Linked DNA regions of Homo sapiens. The protein of the gene in region 2 purifies or fractionates together with the protein of the main gene of each other region. This does not show direct contact. Each region holds a gene or a part of one and is shown on either strand. Other genes may lie near its edges.

Evidence for each region.
Region 1: the proteins of SF3B1 (region 2) and SNRPA fractionate together in Homo sapiens (co-fractionation; 4 studies listed by BioGRID and IntAct, with this or other methods). This does not show direct contact.
Region 3: the proteins of SF3B1 (region 2) and ZRSR2 purify together in Homo sapiens (affinity purification with mass spectrometry; 5 studies listed by BioGRID and IntAct, with this or other methods). This does not show direct contact.
Region 4: the proteins of SF3B1 (region 2) and SMNDC1 purify together in Homo sapiens (co-immunoprecipitation; 5 studies listed by BioGRID and IntAct, with this or other methods). This does not show direct contact.
Region 5: the proteins of SF3B1 (region 2) and SNRPD1 fractionate together in Homo sapiens (co-fractionation; 5 studies listed by BioGRID and IntAct, with this or other methods). This does not show direct contact.
Region 6: the proteins of SF3B1 (region 2) and DHX15 purify together in Homo sapiens (co-immunoprecipitation; 6 studies listed by BioGRID and IntAct, with this or other methods). This does not show direct contact.
Region 7: the proteins of SF3B1 (region 2) and MCM5 purify together in Homo sapiens (affinity purification with mass spectrometry; 4 studies listed by BioGRID and IntAct, with this or other methods). This does not show direct contact.

Annotation. Positions count from the first base shown.
Region 1 is NC_000019.10:40,757,703-40,761,202, forward strand, and holds part of SNRPA (U1 small nuclear ribonucleoprotein A), read left to right. Parts: intron 1-1,728; coding exon 1,729-1,908; intron 1,909-3,500. UniProt on the Homo sapiens protein: Component of the spliceosomal U1 snRNP, which is essential for recognition of the pre-mRNA 5' splice-site and the subsequent assembly of the spliceosome. U1 snRNP is the first snRNP to interact with pre-mRNA.
Region 2 is NC_000002.12:197,404,029-197,407,528, forward strand, and holds part of SF3B1 (splicing factor 3B subunit 1), read right to left. Parts: intron 1,445-3,500; coding exon 1,247-1,444; intron 1,150-1,246; coding exon 1,048-1,149; intron 827-1,047; exon of another isoform or gene 690-826; intron 1-689. UniProt on the Homo sapiens protein: Component of the 17S U2 SnRNP complex of the spliceosome, a large ribonucleoprotein complex that removes introns from transcribed pre-mRNAs.
Region 3 is NC_000023.11:15,800,484-15,803,983, reverse strand, and holds part of ZRSR2 (U2 small nuclear ribonucleoprotein auxiliary factor 35 kDa subunit-related protein 2), read right to left. Parts: intron 297-3,500; coding exon 188-296; intron 1-187. UniProt on the Homo sapiens protein: Pre-mRNA-binding protein required for splicing of both U2- and U12-type introns. Selectively interacts with the 3'-splice site of U2- and U12-type pre-mRNAs and promotes different steps in U2 and U12 intron splicing.
Region 4 is NC_000010.11:110,292,576-110,294,920, forward strand, and holds part of SMNDC1 (survival of motor neuron-related-splicing factor 30), read right to left. Parts: intron 1,713-2,345; coding exon 1,575-1,712; 3' UTR 1-1,574. UniProt on the Homo sapiens protein: Involved in spliceosome assembly.
Region 5 is NC_000018.10:21,622,314-21,625,813, reverse strand, and holds part of SNRPD1 (small nuclear ribonucleoprotein Sm D1), read right to left. Parts: intron 3,090-3,500; coding exon 3,013-3,089; intron 2,067-3,012; coding exon 1,875-2,066; intron 1-1,874. UniProt on the Homo sapiens protein: Plays a role in pre-mRNA splicing as a core component of the spliceosomal U1, U2, U4 and U5 small nuclear ribonucleoproteins (snRNPs), the building blocks of the spliceosome.
Region 6 is NC_000004.12:24,574,555-24,578,054, forward strand, and holds part of DHX15 (ATP-dependent RNA helicase DHX15), read right to left. Parts: intron 2,125-3,500; coding exon 1,689-2,124; intron 1-1,688.
Region 7 is NC_000022.11:35,413,640-35,417,139, reverse strand, and holds part of MCM5 (DNA replication licensing factor MCM5), read right to left. Parts: intron 3,266-3,500; coding exon 3,154-3,265; intron 1,312-3,153; coding exon 1,168-1,311; intron 802-1,167; coding exon 736-801; intron 503-735; coding exon 326-502; intron 1-325. UniProt on the Homo sapiens protein: Acts as a component of the MCM2-7 complex (MCM complex) which is the replicative helicase essential for 'once per cell cycle' DNA replication initiation and elongation in eukaryotic cells.

The DNA.
Region 1 (3,500 bases), on a different chromosome or scaffold from region 2:
GAGGCCGAGGCAGGTGGATTACCTGAGCTCAGGAGTTTGCAGCCAGCCTGGGCAACACCGTGAAACCCTGTCTCTACTAAAATACAAAAATTAGCTCGGTGTGGCAGCATGCACCTGTAGTCCCAGCTACTCCTGTGGCTGAGGAAGGAGAATTGCTTGAACCCGGGAGGCAGAGATTGCAGTGAGCCGAGATCCTGCCACTGCACTCCAGCCTAGGCAACAGAGTGAGACTCTGTCTCAGAAAAAATAAATAAATAAATAAATAAATAAATAAATTATTTTGAGACAGAATCTTCCTCTGTTGCCCAGGCTGGAGTGCAGTGGTGCAATCTTGGCTCACTGCAACCTCCACCTCCCGGGTTCAAGTGATTCTCCTGCCTCAGCCTCCTGAGTAGCTGGGATTACAGGCACGTGCCACCATACCTGGCTGATTTTTTTATTTTTAGTAGAGACGGGGTTTCGCCATGTTGCCCAGGCTGGTCTCAAACTCCTGAGCTCAAGTGATCTGCCTGCCTCAGCCTCCCAAAGTGCTAGGATTACAGGCGTGAGCTACTGTGCCACACTAAGAATCTTTAACATACCTTCCCCTACTGAATAAGCACCATGAAAGAGGGGTTTTTGTCTATTTTGTTCATTGCTTTATTCCCAGAGCCTTGAATGGCGCCTGGCATCTGGCAGGTTCTCCTTAAACAGCTAAGTGAGTGAGATTGAACCTGGAAGACTGAAGTATTCTTGTGTGACAGGAAATCCCCCTGCACTGCACTCCTCTCCTAGCATTGTCTCCTCGGTCCTTTGGCCTGATGTTTATTGCTGTTCCAGCTTCCCTTAAAAATACCAACAGCCTTTCTACTGAACACTTGCTTACTGTGTGTCAGGTACTGTTCCAAGCACTTTAACTCATTTAGTCCTCACAACAGTCCTTTGAAGTGGGAAGTATCATAATCCCCATTTTTCAGACAAGGAAGTTAAGGCCAAGATATTTCTGTGTTTCTCAGTAAGCTCCTGATAAGGTCTGAATTTTTTTTTGTTTGTTTGTTTTTTGTTTTTTGTTTTTTGCTCTGTTGCCTGGGCTGGAGTGCAGTGGTGCCATCTCAGCTGACTGCAACCTTCGCCTCCTGGGTTCAAGCGATTCTTCTGCCTCAGCCTCTTGAGTAGCTGGGACTACAGGTGCGCACCACCATGCCCAGCTAATTTTTGTATTTTTGGTAGAAATGGGGTTTCCTGGCCAGGCGCAGTGGCTCATGCCTGTAATCCCAGCACTTTCGGAGGCCGAGGTGGGTGGATCACCTGAGGTCAGGAGTTCGAGACCAGCCTGGCCAACATGGTGAAACCCTGTCTCTACTAAAAGCACAAAAATTAGCCAGGCGTGGTGGTGGGCGCCTGTAATCCCAGCTAGTAGGGAGGCTGAGGCAGAATTGCTTGAACCCGGGAGGCAGAGGTTGCAGTCAGCTGAGATCTCATCACTGCACTCTAGCCTGGGTGACAGAGCAAGACAATGTCTCAAAAAAAAAAAAAAAAGAAAAGAAACAAAGAAATGGGGTTTTGCCATGTTGGCCAAGCTGGTCTCCACCTCCTGGCCTCAAGTGATCTGCTCGCTTTAGCCTCCCAAAGGGCTGGGATTACAGGCATGAGCCGCAGCACCTGGCCCCTGATAAAGGTCCAATTTTGAATCTTGGCAATTGGGCTCTGAATCCACGCTCTTAACCCGTTCTGCTCTCTGTTTGGTAGCGTATCCAGTATGCCAAGACCGACTCAGATATCATTGCCAAGATGAAAGGCACCTTCGTGGAGCGGGACCGCAAGCGGGAGAAGAGGAAGCCCAAGAGCCAGGAGACCCCGGCCACCAAGAAGGCTGTGCAAGGCGGGGGAGCCACCCCCGTGGTGGGGGCTGTCCAGGGGCCTGTCCCGGTAAGCCAGGTCCCGGAGACCAACCCTCCCACTGCCAGACCTTCCTCAGCCACATGGACTGGCTTTGGGACAGGGTGGGGAGAGTTCTCCCCTTGGGGCTTCAGACCCCTCCTTTCCATTTCTTTATAGAGATGTGTTTCTCTCTCTCTTTTGGGGGGTATTGAGCACCTAGATGATGCTATCTCCTTTCGAAACTCTTGTTCCCTCCTTGTGACTGTTTCTCAAGGTCTTTCTTCATGGCTATGACTTGGTTTCGCTCTCTCCGTGGCCTTGATTTTGTCGCCTGTGTCTTGTAACTCATTGTGCATGTAGAAAATCCAAGTGTCTACTAAGCAACTGTTAGGATTAATAAGTGAACTTAAATTTAGAAAGATCGCTGGATATAAAGGCAATATGGAAAAAAATTAGTTTTATTTATTTATTCATATTATGTTTTGAGACAGGGTCTCACTGTCACCCAGGTTGGAGTGCAGTGGCGCCATCACAGCTCACTACAACCTCCGCCTCCCAGGCTCAAGTGATACGCCTCAGCCTCCCTAGCAGCTGGAACTGTCAGTCCGTGCCACTCCACCCAGCTAACTTTTGCATTTTTTGTAGAGACGGGGCTTAGCCATATCACCCAGGCTAGTCTCAAACTCACTGTCTCAGCCTCCCAAAGTGCTAGGATTACATGCATGAGCCACCATGGCTGGCCCCCAGTTTTATTTTTATATGCCAGTAACAGACCAGTAGACTTCACATTGAAAAGTAGCACTGAGGGGTAAATCCAACAAAAGGTTTGCAGAACGACTACACTGAAATCACAGAATGTAGCTGGGAGAAATCAGAGACTCAGCAATGGATAGGAAGACTCAGTATTGTCAAGAGGTCAGTTCCATCCAAATTAATTGAAGATTCAACGTGATTGCAATCAAAATCCCACCAGGAATTTCGGTAAACACTGGACACTGATTGGCTCTTTCTAAATGTGTGGAAAGACAAGGCCAAGCCAGGCGAGGAGAATAAAGCACCAGGACCTGCATGACCAGGGGAAGCTCCAGCAACCAGGCCAGGCCCAATGGCTCATGCCTGTAATCCCAGCACTTTGGGAGGCCAAGATAGGAGGATTGCTTTAGGTCAGGAGTTCAAGACCAGCCTCTATAAAATAGCAAGACCTCATCTCTACAAAAAATAAAATAGAAAACTGGGCGTGGTGACTCATTCCTGTAGTCCCAGCTGCTCAGGAGGCTGAGCTGGGAGGATCGCTTGAGAACTGGAGGTCAAGGCTGCAGTGAACAGTGGTTTTGTCACTGCACTCCAGCCTGGGTAACAGAGTGAGACCTTGTCTCTTTTTTGTTTTGTTTTGTTTTCTTTTGTTTTTTTTCGGGAGGGAGTCTCAGTCAATCTGTCTCCCCAGGCTGGAATGCAGTCGTGCAATCTCGGCTCACTGCAACCTCTGCCTCTCAAGTTCAAGTGATCTTCTGCCTCAGCCTCCCAAGTAGCTGGATCACAGGCACATGCCACCACGTCCATGTGCAAAAAAAAAAAAAAAACCTGCAGCAACCAACCAGGATGATATACAGTTGGCAGAAGGGTAGGAAGACAGACCAAGG
Region 2 (3,500 bases):
ATCTTCCATTTCCAAGGCACATATAGTGTTAACATAATCCCTCACATAATTTCACTAATTATCTTCAAGCTTTAAGCATATTTTAAAGGCCTTAAGAACAAAAAGGAGAATCTCATTTTTCAGCATTTTTATTAGCTTTTTTAACCAAAGAATTTTGTGCTAACTCCAGCTGGGCACGGTGGCTCACACCTGTAATCCCAACACTTTCGGAGACTGAGGCAGGAGGATCTCTTGAGCCCAGGAGTATTTAAATAATAATAAAAACAAACGGCTGGGCATGGTGGTTCACACCTGTAATCCCAGCACTTTGGGAGACCGAGGCAGGTTAATCATTTGAGGCCAGGAGTTCAAGACCAGCTTGGCCAACATGGTGAAACCCCGTTTCTACTAAAAATACAGAAATTAGCAGGGCGTGGTGGTGCACGCCTGTAGTCCCAGCTACTTGGAAGGCTGAGGCACAATTGCTTGAACCCAAGAGGCGGAGGTTGCAGTGAGCCAAGACTACACCACTGCACTCCAGCCTGGGCAAGAGAGCAAGACCCTGTCTCAAAAATATATATATAATATTAATAATAAAAACAAGCAAAAAAGTTAAATCCTTCACACTACATAAATTTTTTCCCCTCATGCTATGTCCTTGATAAAGATGAAGACAGTAATTATAAATTCCTAAACACAAAAATATAACACTACCAAAAGTTAATTTTTTATGGGGAAGGCTTTCTAAATAACCTTTACCAATTTGGGCTATTTGGGAGAGTAAAGGAAAGACCACACTCCACAGCGGGCTATACCAATAGTTCACTACTATTTTGTGGTCTACATTTCCTGGTGAAAAAATTAAAAACATTTTTAAAAATATAAACATGGCCAGGTGCAGAGCCTCACACCTGTAATCCCAGCACTTTGGGAGGTAGGCCAAAGCAGGAGGATCACTTGAGACCAGCCTGGGCAACATGGCAAAACCCTGTCTCTACAAAAACTACAAATTTTTTTTAATTAAATAAATAAGCAACAAACATGACAATTTAACAAACTGGGACTTACCTTTCTCATTGGTGGTGTTCCATTCTTAATTTTTAAAAGCAACTTCATTATTTTTCTCTCTTTTTGCTCTTCTGGACTAAGTGTTGATTCATCAACATCAACCTATAGTAAAAAGAAAAAAATGTTAAGGGAAGTTGAAATGTTATGATTTATAATTCTGGAACACAATTAATAGTTTATTTCTGCTAGTATCACTTACCAATAGTTTATCAAAGTATTGAATATCATCAGGTTTTAAAAATGGAAGATTTCCAGATGGCTGGTCATTAACACTTTTCATAGTTCGATCTTCAGTTTGCATGTGGAAACCAGTCATACCACCCAAAGGTGTTGGAGTAGCTGTCAGCTTTCGAGCTGGAGTTCGAATAGGAACATAACCAGCTGGAGGAGGAAGTACCTAATAAAAGTTATAAGACAGTTTAGGATTTTCTTAACTTAAAAAACAGCATAATGAACAATATTTGCACTTAAAATATTTTAGTTTATTAGCTAATAAGGTTTTTATTTGCTTGGAGACAACATCTATCTTGCTTTTCTATCTTAATTAGAAACTTAAAATATATACTTCTCATCCACTAACTGATTATATCCGTGGTGTAGGGAACTGAGGAAACACAAGAGAAGAGCTTAGAAAATACTAATCACATTCAAACATGTTGTGGGTCAAAATGTCAAATTATTAAAAATTTGAAAATTATAAAATCTGAGTCAGCAATTCCAAAAAATGCTGTAGTCGAGCAAATAATGTTTCATAAGATTTATATAAAATGGAAATAAGCTCATATGGGGCATAAAACATAAAAAATTATATTTTAGTATTAAAATGTCACATAAATTCTTGCACTACAAAATCTTTTAAGTGTAAAACTCTACAAAAATTAGTTAAATGCATAAAAACTAAAACCAAAATGTTTGCCAAAGCCCTATAAAATACACACCACCTGATCAAACCTTTTGCAAAACGAGTAAAATTTCAAAAAATGCAGGCTGAAAATCACAAAGAAATTTTTTTTTTTTTTTTTAAAGCTGGTAACAGACTTCAAAAAAAAAAAACAACTTCTGGACAGGCCAGGATTACAGCACTTTGGGAGGCTGAGATGGGAGGAACGCTTGAGCCCAGGAGTTTGAGACCAGCCTTGGCAACATGGCAAGACCCCATCTCTATTTTATATAATTTAATATATAGTAAAAGAAAAAAAATACAACTTCTTGGAGAGGTCAATAAACCTATACACGTCTTCTCCAGTGAGCCTAAAATTGTTTTGTCTATTAAAGATTAAATTATGTTAAATTTATATTGATGCTATCTGTACTTTGCACAGATATTTTTTGTTGCTAGTTAACGTCTGCACCAGCACAGACCACTAAGCATTTTGGATAAAGTGGATACTCTAAAGATGTGAGGCCTAGAGAAATCAATGTCAAGTCCACAGGCATCACTTGCCATTAAGGATTTAAAGGTCTACTATATTTTTATATTCACTAGTAAGGACGTTGCTTATTAGTAGGATTCACTAAGGGAGACTTTTCCTCCTAGTGACACTAAGGAAATCAATGACTACGACTGAGAAAGACATGCAGGCAGTCAACAGTAAGTTCTGTCTATCTATACCCACAGTTCTATCTATACCCACAGCATTATGTGGAGGCTACAAAAAGCTTTAAGGCAAAACTTCATGCAAACTTGAAACAAATACTCTAACACAAATAACAGGGGATCAAAAACAAAACAAGGCTGGACACAGTGGCTCATGCCTATAATCCCCAGCAGTGTGGGAGGCCAATGTGGGTACTTTGAGCCTAGGAGTTTGAGACCAGCCTGGCAACACAGTGAGACTCCCGTATCTACAAAAAATAAAAAAATTAGCCAGGTATGGTAGTGCATGCCTGTAGCCCCAGCTACTCAGGAGGCTGAGGCAGGAGGATCACTTGAGCCCAGGAGTCCAAGGCTGCAGTGAGCTATGTCAGCGCCACTGCTCTCCAGTACGGGCAACACAGTGAGACCCTGTCTCTAAAACAAAACAAAACAACAAAAAACATACTCATGAACTGTTAAAAATCAATAGTCATTAACAGAAAAAGCTCTGTAAAGGCCATCAGATGACTTACAAAGTTATCTGGTTCCCCCTGGTTATGATGTCAGCTATACGACCACAGACTATCTTCAGACTAACAAATACTCCCTGAGTACCAGGTACCTAGAAAATTTTATAGTTCAAAATAAATTTTAGGTTGATATGATAAAAAGGCCAGGCACGGTAACTCACGCCTGTAATCCCAGCACTTTGGGAGGCTGAGAGGGACGGATCACTTGAGGTCAGGAGTTCAAGATCAGCCTGGCCAGCATGGCGAAACCCTGTCTCTACTAGAAATACAAAGATGAGCCGGGCATGGTGGTGGACACCTGTAATCCCAGGTACCTGGGAAACTCAGGCAAGAGAATCGCTTAAACC
Region 3 (3,500 bases), on a different chromosome or scaffold from region 2:
TTAAGTTCAAGATAGGCAACTCTTTTTTTTTTTTCTTTTTGAGATGGAGTTCCGCTCTTGCTGCCCAGGCTGGAGTGCAATGGCGTGATCTCAGCTCACTCCAACCTCCCAAGATAGGCAACTCTTCATGAGAGTTATTATGGTGAAGTAATCAGTTTGTTCACTAGTTACGTGATTCCTACCATACCTCTTGTTCTTCTTGCCGTTTTTTAGCCGCCTCTTCCTTTTCCTTCTTTATTCTGAATTCTTCTTGTGCCTTCTGCTCTCTTAGCAACCACTCCTCATGTAATCTTTGCCTATCAGTATAATGATGTAATCAGATAAAAGAAATGGGCATTAATCCACAAATACACACACACACGAGAGCAAAATGACACATTTTGGGACTGATTCAAATATCACGAAAGCTATTTTCTATTAAAGCAGTCAAGTGGGTGTAAGAGAACGAGAAGAGCAGAGCTTTTGGAAAAGCACCACGTGTCAGCAACTATCTTCCTAATGGGTAATAACTTAAAATCTCTCTTACATTTCATAGGTATATATGGCTGTGACATACTTTACAGAAAAAAGGACACTATGACTTTCCCTCTAGACTGATCACAGTGATGTTTAGGTGACAATAAAATGGGTAGCAAGTTTCAAAGCAGCATCTACCTTTTCATATTCAGAAAGCATTTCCCTTCCTATTCTATGCATTTATTTTTATTTATTTATTTATTTTGAGACAGAGTATTACTCTGTTGCCCAGGCTGGAGTGCAGTGGCATGATCTTGGCTCACTGCAACCTCTGCCTCCCGGGTTCAAGTGATTCTCCTGCCTCAGCCTCCCGAGTAGCTGGGATTACAGGTGCCCACCACCACGCAAGGCTAATTTTTGTATTTTTAGTACAGACAGCGTTTCATCATGTTGGCCAGGCTGGTCTCGAACTCCTGACCTCAAGTGATCCACCTGCCTCGGCCTCCCAAAGTGCTGGGATTACATGTGTGAGCCACTGCACCCAGCCCCTATTCTTAAAAGTAGCAATTCCATGATGGCAGCACGCTGAAAACCCAGTATCCTTTGCCATAAACCTTTGGACTACTACTACACACAGTTAAGAGACTCCTGTGGTTTGCCTCCAAACACCTAAACAGCCAAAAGAAGGAAAATAAAAGTACATTGTAATCATGTTTTTAAAATAAAGCTACAGGTTTTAAGAAATGGAGTTATAAAAATAAATTAGTGAGGGCCGGGCGCAATGGCTCGCACCTGTAATCCAGCACTTTGGGAGGCTGAGGCGGGCGGATCACCTGAGGTCAGGAATTTGAGACCAGGCTGGCCAACATGGTGAACCCCATCTCTACTAAAAATACAAAAATTAGCCAGGCGTGGTGGCAGCCGCCTATAATCCCAGCTACTTGGGAGGCTGAGGCAGGAGAATCGCTTGAATCTGGGAGGCGGAGTTTGCAATGAGCCGAGATCATGCCACTGCACTCCAGCCTGGGTGACAGAGCGAGACTTCGTCTCAAAAAATGAAAAAATAAAAATAAATTAGTGAGTGTCTAGTCTATTTTTTATATGACCAATTATAATGAGTGGTATTACCTTAAAGTGGCAAGTGTCTCAGACATCCAATATCACAAATTTCTAATATAAAGAGGGGGTTAGATTGCCAAAGTCTACCTGCCAATTAGGTGTGTAGAACCTCAAATTCATTCTTCCACTGAATTTATAAAAGGGAAATTAAATATGAGAAACTGTTCTATATTACTTCAGCAGTATTAGGAGTTCAGTAAAGTTTTATGTCTAGTCTGGGGACCTAACCACAATTTTAAATAAAATATATTACATTTCCAAATACAGATTCCAGGAACACATCTTTTAGCCATGGCAGAGGCTGGCACATTGCATCTATCAGTGTTCCTATGCCATGTGTGAGGGTACCATATAGATGTTTCAGTGGGCACAACTCTGATTTACAAATCTTTTGAAAAACATATAATTGTATATAAATGAACCAAATGATATATAAATTAAGACCACAAGAAAGTAAAATGTTAAAAATTTTAAAATTTAATAACTTGAATATACATCTGCTTTGAAATAGGACATAAAGTCATACAGTATTTTTACATAATTTTCTTGCTTTTCAATAATAGTATGCAACTCATAAAGAAATAAAGATCTAAGGAGCACAAAGATACATGTATGTGATTTAAAAGAAGCATTTCAAATAAACAGGAAAAAAATTACTCTCTTATTTCATACCGTATCTATTGTCTTCATCATAACAGAAATCTATAATAATAAGAACTAGAGCTATCACAGCACCTCTCATCTGCTGACACTGTGTTAAACACTATACATCCATCACCTCCTTTAATCTTCACAATTCTGTGAGGTGGATACTGTGATTGACTTTATCTCCATATTACAGACAAGGAAATAGAAGCTTAGAGACATTAAGAAATTTCGGCTGAGCGCGGTGGCTCACACCTGTAATCTCAGCACTTTGTGAGGCCGAGGCGGGCAGATCATGAGGTCAAGAGATCGAGACCATCCTGGCCAACATGGTGAAACCCCATCTCTACTAAAAGTACAAAAAAAAATTAACTGGGTGTGGCGGTGCGTGCCTGTAATCCCGGCTACTCGGGAGGCTGAGGCAGGAGAATCGTGTGAACCTGGGAGGTGGAGGTTGCGGTGAGCGGAGATCACACCACTGCACTCCAGCCTGGTGACAGAACGAGAGTCCGTCTCAAACAAAACAAAACAAAAACAAATTTTAAAAAAACATGTATCCCAAAAGAGAAAGGTGTGAGACTTGAGCAATCTACAAATAGGTAATAAAACATATAAAAAGATACTCTACCTAATTCAGAAATGTGCATTTGAAACAGTTTCATTATAGTTTTATAAACTGATAATGCCTAGTATGAGTGAAGGTATGGGGAGATGGGCCCCTACATTCACTGCCAGAAGGGCTGCAAACTGCAAACCAGGAAGCCCTTTCTACCTGGCCATCTACATTTTACATGGACTTATGATTTGATTCCAACAATCTCATTTTTAGTCATGTTCTTAAGGAAATAACTGGACAATTACCAAGGATATATAAGCATGGATGCTTACTGCAACTTTTTACATATGAGTGAAAAACCAATATAACCTGAAAGTCCATCAGTAGAGAACTATAAATTATAAATGAATAAACTATGAATAGCAAATAAATTATGCTACATCTGTACAGTGGGTACTGTATTGCCACTGAAATGGCTGAATTAGATCCCTGCATCAGTACTGAAATAAATGCACTATATATTTAGCAAGAAAGCAATTTATAGAAAAATATGTATAAATATCATGCCATTATAGAAAGACACACGTAAAGTACATTTACACTTTCTTTTTCTCTTTCTTAACAGTGGCTATCTTTGGGTGTGTTGCAATTATTAAAGTCTTTTCCCTTTTTACATTTGTTAATTTTTTTTGTTTTTTTTCTGTTTTCAAAAACAATTACAGGT
Region 4 (2,345 bases), on a different chromosome or scaffold from region 2:
AGTATATTTTATTTAGAAGTTTACAGGCTTCAACAAACCCTTTTTCTACTGCAGTTTGTGCCTTTCTGTCCTTTGTGTCCTACCCTGTGGCCACGAATTATATGAAGAAAAAGTGACCCTCCTGGGTTGAGAGGGGTGGGTGTGGAAGGGAGAGATGAAGAATTCTACCTACCACTGTCCTAAGTTTCAATTTATAAAAAAAATTAAAATTCATGAAATAAAAACTTATTTTCCCCTTCCACCAAAAATCTACAAACACCCATTAAAATGAGGACATCCTATAAACACAGGCCTGGTTTGCCCTTTAAGATCCAATTTCTTCTAATGGAAGGAATACTTAAGCATTTACTGAAACCTCTCACACACTCAGTATTCTCTTGCATGAATGCCGTGTGCAAGTACTTGGAGGTTTAATTGCTTTAAGTGCTGACAGCTAAAGACTTTACCCTTTTGTTAACACACCCTGGAGATTTTAAAAACACTTTATTTAATAAAAGTTAAACATACAAAACTGAAATAATACACATCCTAAAAATTACCTTCTTCCATTAATAGGAAGACCCTTTTCTATGCATGTATTTGGCTTAAACTCAACTCAGGATAACTGTGATGATGTTCACTTACACCAACAAATGCAGACAACCTGATCTAATTAACAAAAATTACAAACAGCTAAATGAACATAATATACAGGGAAATTATCGTCAGATTAATGCACAAGAAATACAAGAAATTTTTAATGATGAAATATTCAGTATTCTTGTTCATTAATTTAGCCTTGTGTTTTTACAAAAATAGTATCTACACTGTATACAGGGCTATACATCAGCTTTTTGTTCTCCCATATAAACATCACACATCCAAAACATGGTACCACTGCCGTAAATGGAAAAAACAAAAAACAGGAAAAAAGCAAACATACAAAAAACAAAAACACCTTAGAAAAGGGAGCTCATCCTAAGGTTTCTTACATAAAACTAAGAGTACATAAAAATAAAACAGCTAGATCAATTTTAGAGATGGCCTAATAGGCCTGGGAAACAAGTTATTGAGGAAAAACCTCAAAACAAACTTTGCCATTTACAAATTAACCTATCTTTAAGCTTAACTGAACGACAGCTAAGTTTTAAAGCTGAAAATAAGAAAAATGAAAAGATCTCTTTTAGCAGGTTGGTGTTTTTGCCTTGGTGTTCCAATGAATTGCTAGAGTATGTGTCAAGTTCAAAGCATCTGAAAATTTCAAGTTACAACTTACAAAAAGTACACACCATAGGTTAAGTAGGCGCCTGATATTAGGAAGATCAATAATTCATCTAAGTGCTGTATGAAACAGCATCTACAAAAGTTGCTTTATTCAACAAACTTTGAGGGAACCGTGGTACTGATAATGAGAAAAGTTAAATGAATAGCAGTTATCAAATGCAATTTCTTCACGTTTCATTCTACTGAAGCCAACCAATGACGACAATGGTATCTTGCTTACTCATCTAACAAATAATTTACCTTTAGAAAAATATAAGGATAAAAAGGTAAATGTAAAGCCCTGCAGAGATGAAATCCAACAGTTTTTCTGATTATTGAGGCATCAAATGCCTGACATTGTATTTAGAGGTATCTTGATATTGTGTCATAGGTTTATCAGCAATTCCACAGGTTCCTACTCCAACTTTACCAGTCACACTCTCAGGTGAAGCAAAAATACTCCTCTTTACCTAAGGGAAAGAAAACAGAAATCATTCCTGATTAGTGTTGGAAAAAATAAAAAATTTCAAATTTTAAGTAATGTTAAAATATATTCTGGTTTCAACGTTTAAAAGAAGAAAAACATATTGCCTTTGTTTAGTGTTAAAAAATGGGTACAGAAGTGGTCCCATGCTGGAAGCCATTTACTGTAACTTCTAAGTTGTGGAAAATATCATTACATTTACTAATACTCATAACACTTGCCTTCTGATACGTCAAAATTTTAGTTTTGTAAACGCAAATCCTAACTTCAGCTGTGAGCTAGCCATTCTAGCATGATTAAAGCTCTGGCTGTATTGTGGTTTACTGTGGGGCCTGTTATGATAGCCAAATTGTGAAGTCCCTTGGCCTTTGTCACAAAATAAACATCTTTATGAAAAGGAAGCGCTTCTTTCCAGAAGCCATGTCCATCAATGGAAGGGCTACCTTGATGGCAGTGAAGAGTAACACATGGGTGAAAGTCAGGTTATCCTTATTCTCAACTTCCTATATGAATGCTACAGTTATTTTCTACCCAACACACACAAGGTAAGTGTATCAAGGGAAACTGAATGCACTTTTAAATAAAATCTACCAGTGATGCCCAGCATGAAGGCATGTTA
Region 5 (3,500 bases), on a different chromosome or scaffold from region 2:
ACGGTGAAACCCCGTCTCTACTAAAAATACAAAAAATTAGCCGGGCGTGGTTGCAGGCGCCTGTGGTCCCAGCTACTGGAGAGGCAGAGGCAGGACAATGGTGTGAACCCGGGAAGCGGAGCTTGCAGTGAGCCGAGATCGCGCCACTGCACTCCAGCCTGGGCGACAGAGTGAGAGTCCATCTCAAAAAAAGATTTCGGCTGGGCGCGGTGGTTCCTGCCTGTAATCCCAGCACTTTGGAAGGCCGAGGCGGGTGGATCACTTGAGGTCAGGGGTATGAGACCAGCCTGACCAACAGGATGAAACCCCACCTCTACTAAAAATACAAAATTAGCTGGGTGTGGTGGCACACACCTATAATCCCAGCTACTTGGGAGGCTGAAACAGAAGAATCGCTTGAACCCAGGAGGCAGAGGTTGCAGTGAGCTGAGATCCTGCCACTGCACTCCAGCTTGGCTAACAAGAGCGAAACTCCATCTCAAAAAAAAAAAAAAAAATTTTTTTCAACAAAATTTTAAATAGAAAGTAGACTGGGAACTGTAACATTTAGTAAAGGAAGAATAACTTCTGAAAAATCTAAGATTCAGAAGCGTGGAGTAAGATGATATGAGGCGGGGGGCTTTCAATCATCAATTCCCCGACAGGTAGGTAGGTAGTAAAAAAAAAAATGTAGAATAACCCTAACGACATTAAAGCAAAACATCCTCAGATTTGAAAATACAGCCAGCCTTCAATATCCATGGGTTGCACATCCATGGATTTAACCAACTGAGGATCAAAAATGTAGTTTAGGCCTATGATGGTTGTATCTGTACTAAACACATACAGACTTTTTCTTGTCATTAACGCCTAAACAATACAGTATAACTATCTACAGAGCATTTACATTATACTAGGTATTACAAGTAATCTAGAGATGATTTAAAGGGTACAAAAGGATGTGCACTGAAACACTACTACCATTTTATGAAAAGGGACTTAAGAATCTGTAGATTTTGGTACCCACAGGGGGTTTTTTTAAAGTGGAAAGCAGCATGAGATAAAGGACCGAGAGAGAGATTAAATCATTGTTTTTCAAGCTATGGATTACAATCATATATATATATATATATTTTTTTTTTTTGAGACAAAGTCTCACTCTGTAGCCCAGGCTGGAGTGCAGTGGCGTGATCTTGGCTCACAGCAACCTCCACCTCCCAGGTTCAAGTGATTCGTCTGCCTCAACCTCCCGAGTAACTGGGACTAAAGGCACGCACCACCACGCCTGATTTTTTTTGCATTTTTAGTAGAGAGGGGGTTTCGCCATGTTGACCAGGCTGGTCTGGAACTCCTGGCCTCAGGTGATCTGCCCACCTTGGCCTCCCAAAGTGCTGGGATTACAGGTGTGAGCCACCCTGCCCGACCACATCGATATTTGTTGTTTGGTTTTTTTTTTTTTTGAGACAGTGGCTCTGTCACCCAGGCTGGAGTGCAGTGGTGAGATCTCGGCTCACTGCAACCTCCGCCTACTGGGTTCAAGCGATTCTCCTGCCTCAGCCTCCCGAGTAGCTGGGATTACAGGCACCCGCCACCATGCCCAGCTAAGTTTTATATTTTTAGTAGAGATGAGGCTTCACCATGTTGGCCAGGCTGGTCTTGAACTCCTGACCTCGTGATCCACCCGCCTTGGCCTCCCAAAGTGCTGGGATTATAGGCGTGAGCCACTGCGTCCGGTTGCTCAATGTTTTTAATAGCAACACCAAGAATTACTATACATACTATAGGAAATATTAAACAACAAAGACACTTGTGTTGTTTGCAAATAATATCTATATTATGAATAGTGTGGATTAGGATTAGCATTCACAAAAATGTTTATAATCCTTCAAACTTACCAGCTTCCCTTTTCTTAGATTTCACCTTAGGTTCAACATCCACAAGTAGTGTATCCAGAGGTAAACTGTCTGGTAGAATAAAATACCGAATGTTATTTCCTCGAATACTCAGCGTTTCCAGCTGTACAGGTTCTCTGTTCTTCAGGGTCATTTTCACAGCTTTAAGATGTGTATTCATGCTGACATCCACACCTAAAGAGGAAAATAATTGTGCAGTTATTAGTATGATACAAGTTAAGGCAACTAATTAATCTACTGAGCCACAGTAAATACTGGACTACAAAAGATTACTGTTCTTCTACAAAGTGCAAGTTTTCTATGACACAATTTAGCACATGTGCAACTGGTAAATGGGGGAATGTCAGCAGTGTTTCCTTCCTAGAGATTTTTCCTAGCACACTAATGTTTTGCTTACAGAAGTGAATGCAGCAAGCCATGGAAGAACCCTGACTGGGCTTTAGGCTCACTACTGATGTGACAGGTATTTCTTTCATGTTTCTCCCACTGTCTTTGTAACTTCCTCATAATCCCCATTCCACCAAACTATCCTCACCTTTGTTTCTGCTTCTCTCTGTATATAAGAATTGTTACTGCTTTTGTTAAGATGGATCATGAGGTCAGGAGTTCGAGACCAACCTGGCCAACATGATGAAACCCCGTCTCTACCAAAAATATAAAAAATTAGCTGGGTGTGGTGGCACGCACCCATAACCCCAGCTACTTGGGAGGCTGAGGCAGGAGAATTGCTTCAACCCGGACCCGGGAGGCAGAGGTTGTAGTGACCTGAGATTGTGCCACTGCACTCCAGCCTGGGTAACAGAGTGAGAATCCGTCTAAAAAAAAAATTTACCCGGGCATGGTGGCAGGCACCTGTAGTCCCAGCTACTTGGGAGGCTGAGACAGGAGAATTGCTTGACCCCAGGCGGCGGATGTTGCAGTGAGCTGAGATCGTGCCACTGCACTCCGGCCCAGGTGACAGAGCAAAACTGTTTAAAAAAAAAAAAAAAAAATTACATAATTCAGACAAAAAAAATAAGGATTTGTACTACAATAATGTTCATTAAGCAATAAAAAAATAAACTCTGGCTAGGTAAAAGAGAAGAAAAAAAATGTTATAAAAGCAGTCCAACCTCCGTACCTGTGATTGTTCCATGGACCTGTGTTCCGTTCTTCAATTCAATGGTTACAGTTTCATGACTCAATTTCATCAAAAATCTATAAATAGGAATAAAACCATTTTTACCTGTAACACTTTAAAATCACATTTATTAAGGTGAAAGGGTGAAACAACTCGATGTTGAAAATTTGCTAGATGCTATCTGCATCAATTCCTATCAATAATCTGCATAACAATTTCAGCTTTCCTGAATTATATCCTCAACCTTTATGAAGGAACACAACAATACTAACATAAACTGTCATTTGGACGTTTCTAATTCTCAAACCTGAAATCCAGACATACAAGATCTTAGACTCATTATAAACCATGAAAAAGAAATAGGCCAGGCGTGGTGGCTCACGCCTATAATTCCAGCAGTTTGGGAGGCCAAGGCGGGCGGATCACGAGGTCAGGAGATCGAGATCATCCTGGCTAACATGGTGAAACCCCGTCTCTACTAAAAAATA
Region 6 (3,500 bases), on a different chromosome or scaffold from region 2:
CCACAGAATAGCAGTATGAAATATAAAACTTTAGATATAAAGACAAAAGGTACAAAGTTTTAAATATTGAGCCCACCAAAATCCATAATCCATGTAACCCAGGACAATCCACTAAACCTAAGTTTCTCATAAACTTAAACCTCATTTTGCTCATCTGTAAAGTGGTGATGAATATCTTCCTGCAGGGTTATAGAAAAACGTAAATGAGCTAATACATGTAAAGTATACAGTGTCTGGCTTTACCCAAATATCAATTAAATAGTAAGTTCAGAGTTACAGTCTTTCTTGTAGTTTGAAAATTCTTAAAATTTCCGTAAGGTGATTTTTGAATACCCTAACATCAATTCTAAGTTTTCCTTCATTAAAAAAGAAAAATTGGCAAGGCTAAGGCAGGAGGATTGCTTTAGCTCAGGAGTTCAAAACCTCAACTCTACAAAAATTTTATTTAAAAATTAGCCAGGCACTGGTGGCATATGCCTGTGATCCCAGCTACTTGGGAGGCTGAGGCAGGAGGATCGCTTCAGCTCAGGAGGTTGACGCTGTGTTCATACCACTGCACTCCAGCATGGGTGAAAGACTGTCTCAACAACAACACAAAAATTAAAAAAAAAAAAAAGAAAAGAAAAGAAGAATGGTACTAAGGCTCAGTCTATAATAAAAGCTTCCTATTTTGGTTGCTACAGTACCTTCAAAATGTCTCCATGCACATGTAACTTTAGAAAAAGATAAATTGTGTATGCGGTATGTTCAATCTCTGCATGGTAAGACAGGTAATTCACTTCAATACTTTCCTGAATTTTTCAAAGTTTCTACAATGATCAGGGACTGCTACTTTTGAAACCAGAAATTTTTAATTGATGGTTCAGGCTTAAGTGTATAAAGACAGTTACTTCTCACCCACAGCAAGAAAATGCAAATTAAAAAGTACATTAGAATGCAATTTTTCACCTATTGGATTTGTAAAAATTCACGTTTTAATAGTTTCCCACGTGTTCTCCTACATGCTCATGGAAAGGTAAATTGATACGCTCCCTCTGGAAGGCTATCCAGCTTTCTGTATCACAATTACAAATGATCTTCTGACCCAGCAATTTCTGCTTCCTACAGAAACACTTGACCCATGCAAAACAACCATGGGAAACAGTCTAAATGTCTATCAACAGGGGTCTAGTTAATAATAGCCCATCCATGTTTAAAAAATATCCTAGCTATATTACAAATAACACACTAGTAACAGTGTTTAGTTCTATGGGAGGGAGGACGACTAGATGGACAAAAGTCACCGGTATAGACTTTATATTACTTTGGCATTTCATTTTTTGCATGGTTCAAAATACCATATTAAATACAAACGACAAAAATCTACCCCAGTGATTTCTCCACCCAAGTACCAGAAAACAAACTGTGGGTCCCTAAATCTGTACTGTCCGGGAGTCAAAATACCTCTGCCATACATAAGGTAACAAAATTTGAAAAGCGAGCACCACTATTTTCCCCTAGATTCAGGGGAGAGGTATTCTCTATAGGATTTCCACTCTGAAATTCAGAGTGCCAATTAAACATCAAATCAGCTATTCTTCAAGATGTTCTATAGGACAGACAAGGGAAATGACCACCAGAATCAAATATGCAACATTTGGTAAACTTAAACATAAATGAAATATGTACCATGGTATACAATAACTCACCTGTGTTGTTTTACCAGACCCAGTCTCACCAACCAGTACAAAGGACTGATGTCTAACCAGAATATCTGTAAACCTATCCTTGTATTCCCAAACAGGGAGCTGAAGACGTTTCTTTAGAATATCATAGTATCGAGGAGTATGGGGTAAGTTGGTGAACGGATTAATGCACTGTGGAAGTGACGTGTGACCTGCATGTCCGGCATGCGTTGAATGAGCAGAATGTGTTGAATGCGTTGAATGTGCTGAGTGGGTTGAGTGAGCTGAATGGGAAGCTTTCAAAGGTGGTAATCCAGCACTGATAAGCATAGCATTTGTTGAAGCTCGCAACTCCTTCTCCTTTTCTTTCTCCCTCTCTCGCTCTCTATCTCCTCTATCACGTTCTCGGTCTCGATCTTTAGACCGATCTTCACGATCCCGGTCTCGATCTCGATCCTTCCTAAAAACAAAAATTTAGAATTCAGATTCTGAATTTTATGCAGAATGTTCACGGTAGCGTTATAATCACAAAGAGAGTAAATGTCCAACGTTCAAATGAATAAAAAGTCCAATGGATTATGTAACTATCAGAAATAATAAAAAATACCCTACAATCAAGGGTTTCCCATTCTCCACCACAAACATCTTTCCCTTCCTTGCTGATGCCCCACCTTCCTTAACTTTTAACATTAGGTGAGGTAACACAAGAACTCAGTCTGCTGCAAGTAAAACCCCTCCTACTTAGACAACAGAAATCAGATACTGAGGGTAGGATGAAGAAAGGATAGGTCCAAATTGAGTAAAAGAAGATGGCATCTCAATCTTTCTCAAATTCTCCTTCAATTTGTGAAGAGGTATTTTGTGCACTAAAAGTATATTCAGAAGTTAGCACAAACACTGCTACTGGAGATAAAGACAACTCCACCTCACATCATTACAGTCAACAGTGGTGGGTTTTGCTCAATACTTTTATAATCCACTTCTAATAAATTACTTTAATATTCCTTTCTTTGCCATAGGACGATGTTCGGTTGTAATGCAAAGTGAAAAGAGCATAGTACAATGTTATACCTGTCAATATCTCAACTAATACAAATACGAATTACAGGACTGCAGAATTTGTTTTCTTAGTTATACTTTCCAGCACTTTCCCAATTTTGTTCAGTAAATGTATATTGCTTTATTAAAAAAACTGAAATTAAAACTTTTATTCCTTCTTGCTTGTTTACTCTTGCATTTTAACCTAAACAGCAACAGCAAAACACTGAAAGCACTCTATAAATCTATGTACCTTGGTCTACCATAAAATGAAACATAGCCAAATTAAAAATAAGCTTTGCTAAACACTATTAAGTTGTTTAACATGTTAAAATTATGCAGGTAGCCACTCTATTAAACCTGGGTCAATTTTAAGTAGTCAATGCTGGTATCTACTTCCAGTTACTAGAGATTGACCTTAATAAGTCATTTTAAAAGTATCTATGCTAAGAACTTCACAAGCAGAATGGCTGCAGGTTGTTCATATGCGTTGTGGCTGAAAGCAGCCTCTGGGAGACTGGTGGTGGGAATAAAATAAAATAATCTATGCTTGTTCATTTTACTAATCCAGTTTACTTCAGACCAAGTCCATCAGCAGAGAAATTTGCCTCAAGATCTTTAAACCCAGACTTGAAATAATGAGACATGACGGAGCTATGACACAAGCCCCGAAACATGTCATTGTTCCTTACCCACAATACACAAAAGTACAAATTCCCTGTGCTCCAAGTGCAGTTGTGTGACATGTACAAATTTACTCAAAAAGGGGAAAAGCCATATATATGCATATATAAACAT
Region 7 (3,500 bases), on a different chromosome or scaffold from region 2:
ACCAGAACTGAGGTTCTATTACTCATAACCCAATGTCAACTCCTCTGTTTCATATATAAGGGACTGAGGCCCAGGGAGAAACTGATTTAGCCCAAATCACACAGCTTATCACTCACGGCAGAGGCAGAGCAGGCCACAGGACTCCAGACCCTGCTTCAATCCTCTGCAGTCCACAACAACCGCCCTCTCACGTGCTCCCCAATTTCACAGCCTGACAGTCAGGACTTTGCCAGCCAAGGCCCTTGTTCTCCATTCTCCTTCCCACACAATCACAAGCCTGCCTGGAGGCAGGTCCCATGGCCACCAGCCCTGCCCCTGGACGTACCACATCCCTCTCCTCATTGTGCTCATCCTTGACGATGAAGATCATGTCGAAGCGCGACAAGATGGTGGGCATGAAGTCAATGTTGTCCTCCCCCTTCGTCTCATCCCAGCGGCCGAACACTGAGTTGGCAGCAGCCAGGACGGAGCAGCGGGAGTTCAGGGTGGTGGTGATCCCAGCCTAACAGGCGACAGACGACGAAAAGGGGGAGGAGATGGCAAAGATGCCTTCTTATATACACGTTTACACACACACACACACACACACACACACACACACACACACACACACACACACACACACACAGATTCTAGGCCTGGGCAAAGAGAACTTGGTCCCAATCAGGGCAGCCTGAGGACGGTTGGGCCACGCTGGGCTGCTGCAGGCTGGGCTCTCCATGGAGGGCCACTCACCTTGGCGATAGAGATGGTCTGCTGCTCCATGGCTTCGTGGATTGCCACACGGTCATCTTCTCGCATCTAAGTGGGGAAGAGAGAAATATCATCAGACCTACTGAAGTGAGGGAGCAGGGAGCAGTAGAAACAGGAAAACTAACAGCAGCCCTCACTCCTGAATACCAGCTCCACGCAAGGCCAATGGCAGCAACCAGGTCACCTCTAATCATGGGAACAACTGTGTGGGCTTGCCTTTCTTCTCCCCACTCTTCAGATATGGGAACTGAGGCTTGAAGAGGTTAAGCAGCTTCCCACAGTTACTAGAGTGACCGGCCCAGGGATTGAAAACATGTCTCCCAAGTCAGAGGTGATTTCTGCTGGCTGAGCACAGGAAGTCACATACCCTGGTGCCACCCACCTTTTGGCTACTACCCACCTCATCAGACTCACCTTGTCAAACTCGTCAATACAGACGACCCCACCATCGGCCAGGACCATGGCTCCGCCCTCCATGATGAAATTCCGGGACGAAGGGTCCCTCATCACCGAGGCTGTCAGTCCAGCTGCGCTGCTGCCTTTCCCAGACGTGTATACCTGGGGCAGTGGGGTGGTGTCAGGGCCCAATAACAACTCCATGCTTTGACCCCCATAAGACAAAAAGACCCACTGAGGTTGTGATTTGCCCAAGGTCACACATCAAAGCTGGCTGCAGGGTACAGAATAGGACTCAAGGCTCCAACTCAGTGCGTCTCCCTCTGGAAGGGGATGCTGCCCTGGGCCTCGGTGTGCCCAGATGTTCTCCCCGCTGAGGGCATCACATCCATGGCTCACCTAAGCCTCACCACAGCCCTGTGACACAGTCTTGTGAGGCCCAACTCACAGATGAGCAAACTGAGGCCCAGAGAAGAGGAGTTAGCCTCAGGGCTAGGATGAGGACTCCTGACTCCCAGGGAAAGCCTGCCCCCATCGTGAGTCCCTTGTCGTCTCTATATAGACCTACACGCCACATACTGCCATAGAGCCCCTGAAATTGGGAAAGTCCTAACTGAGATGTCCTTAATCGTGCAAAATACGCACGATTTCAAAGACTCAGAGCTCCTAAGAATGTAAAGTATCTCAATAATCTACATATCAAACAACATGTTGAAATGAGATTTTAGATATAGCGAGTTAAACAGAAGTAACTTCACCTGTTTTTCCTTTTTTCTTTCCCCTTCTTCCTTTTAAATTGAAACGGGGTCTTGCTATGTTGCCCAAGCTGGTCTCAAACTCCTGGGCTCAAGTGATCCTCCCACCTCAGCCTCCCAAGTAGCTGGGACTACAGGTATGCACACAACCGCACCCAGCTACTTTTTAATGTGGCTGTTAGACAATCTGAGAAGACATACATGGGTCGCATGTGCAGTTCACTATTTCTACTGGACAGTGCCAGTGTGGCAAATTTGGCACACTTCCTATCTATCCAAAGACCACCATCTCGCCCTATACAACCCCGCCACTCGGATCATGTCAGACCTTCTCTGGCTCTGATCCCCGCAGACCCATTCAACAACGCAGCAGAGGACCCAGCTCATCAGACACTTGGGTTCAATCACATCCTGCTCTAATGCTTACCAGCAGTGAGACCTGGGCCAAGACACTTACCCATTCTGTACCTGAGTTTTCTCACCCCTAACACAGGGGTAATAGTACCTGCCACACAGTTGAGGTGAAGACTAAGTAAATATATGCAAAGTACTTCAAGCAGTGTCTGGCCCTTCATTTTAGCTATTATTATTATTATTATTATTTATTATTATTATTTGAAACATGGTCTCACTCTGTCACCCAGGCTGGAGTGCAGTGGCACAATCTTGGCTCACTGCAACCTCCCCGTTCTGGGCTTAAGTGATCCTCCCACCTCAGCCTCCCAAGCAGCTGGGACCACAGGTGCATATCACGCCTGGCTAGTTATTTTGTATTTTTGGTAAAGACAGGGTTTCACCATGTTGTCCAGGCTGGTCTCAAACTCCTGAGCTCAAGCAATCCGCCCACCTCGGCCTCCCAAAGCGCTGGTATTACAGGGATGAACCACCATGCCCAGCCAGATTTTAGCTATTAATGATAACAATATCATTATTTAGCAAATGGATAAACTGACGCTCAGGGAGATTGGGTGACTTACTCAAAGCCCACAGCCAATTTCTGGCCAGGGTGAGACCCAAACCCCATCCTGACTCTCAGTACAGTGTACTCGCCCCCTGCCCCAAACCTACATACACCTGTTGGCTCCCTTCTTCCTCCCATCTCCTCGGCCATCCTGACCGCAGCCAAGAGAAAGGAGGAAGAGATTCCGGGTGAGCCAGCCCACCACAGGTGTCCTGAGGACCCAGAGGCCCTGCCCTGCAGCCTTCCTCCCTGCAAGCCAAGGTGGCAAAGGTATCCCAGGCCACTCACCCCAATGGGAGAACACTTCTCCACAAACTTCAGAAGCTGGGACTTGGCTGTCCCAGGGTCCCCTAGCATCAGCAGGTTGATGTCTCCTCGGCGAGTAAGTCCATCAGGGAGCCTGGGGGACGAAGGGTAGATGGACAAGGTGAGAATCCATGAGGGCATCGCATGTGACATCCAGTCACCAGATTGGTGGGCTGGCAGTTGACTCCCCCAACTATCATGGGCCTCAGAGTTGGTAAGAAGGTAGTGGCTGTGGCCTGAGACCCATGTTCCTACCCAGCTCTGTAGTTCCCAAACCATGGTAGGTCTTGCCTAGCAATGAGGACAGAGCTTGCCTCCCAGAAGAGGAG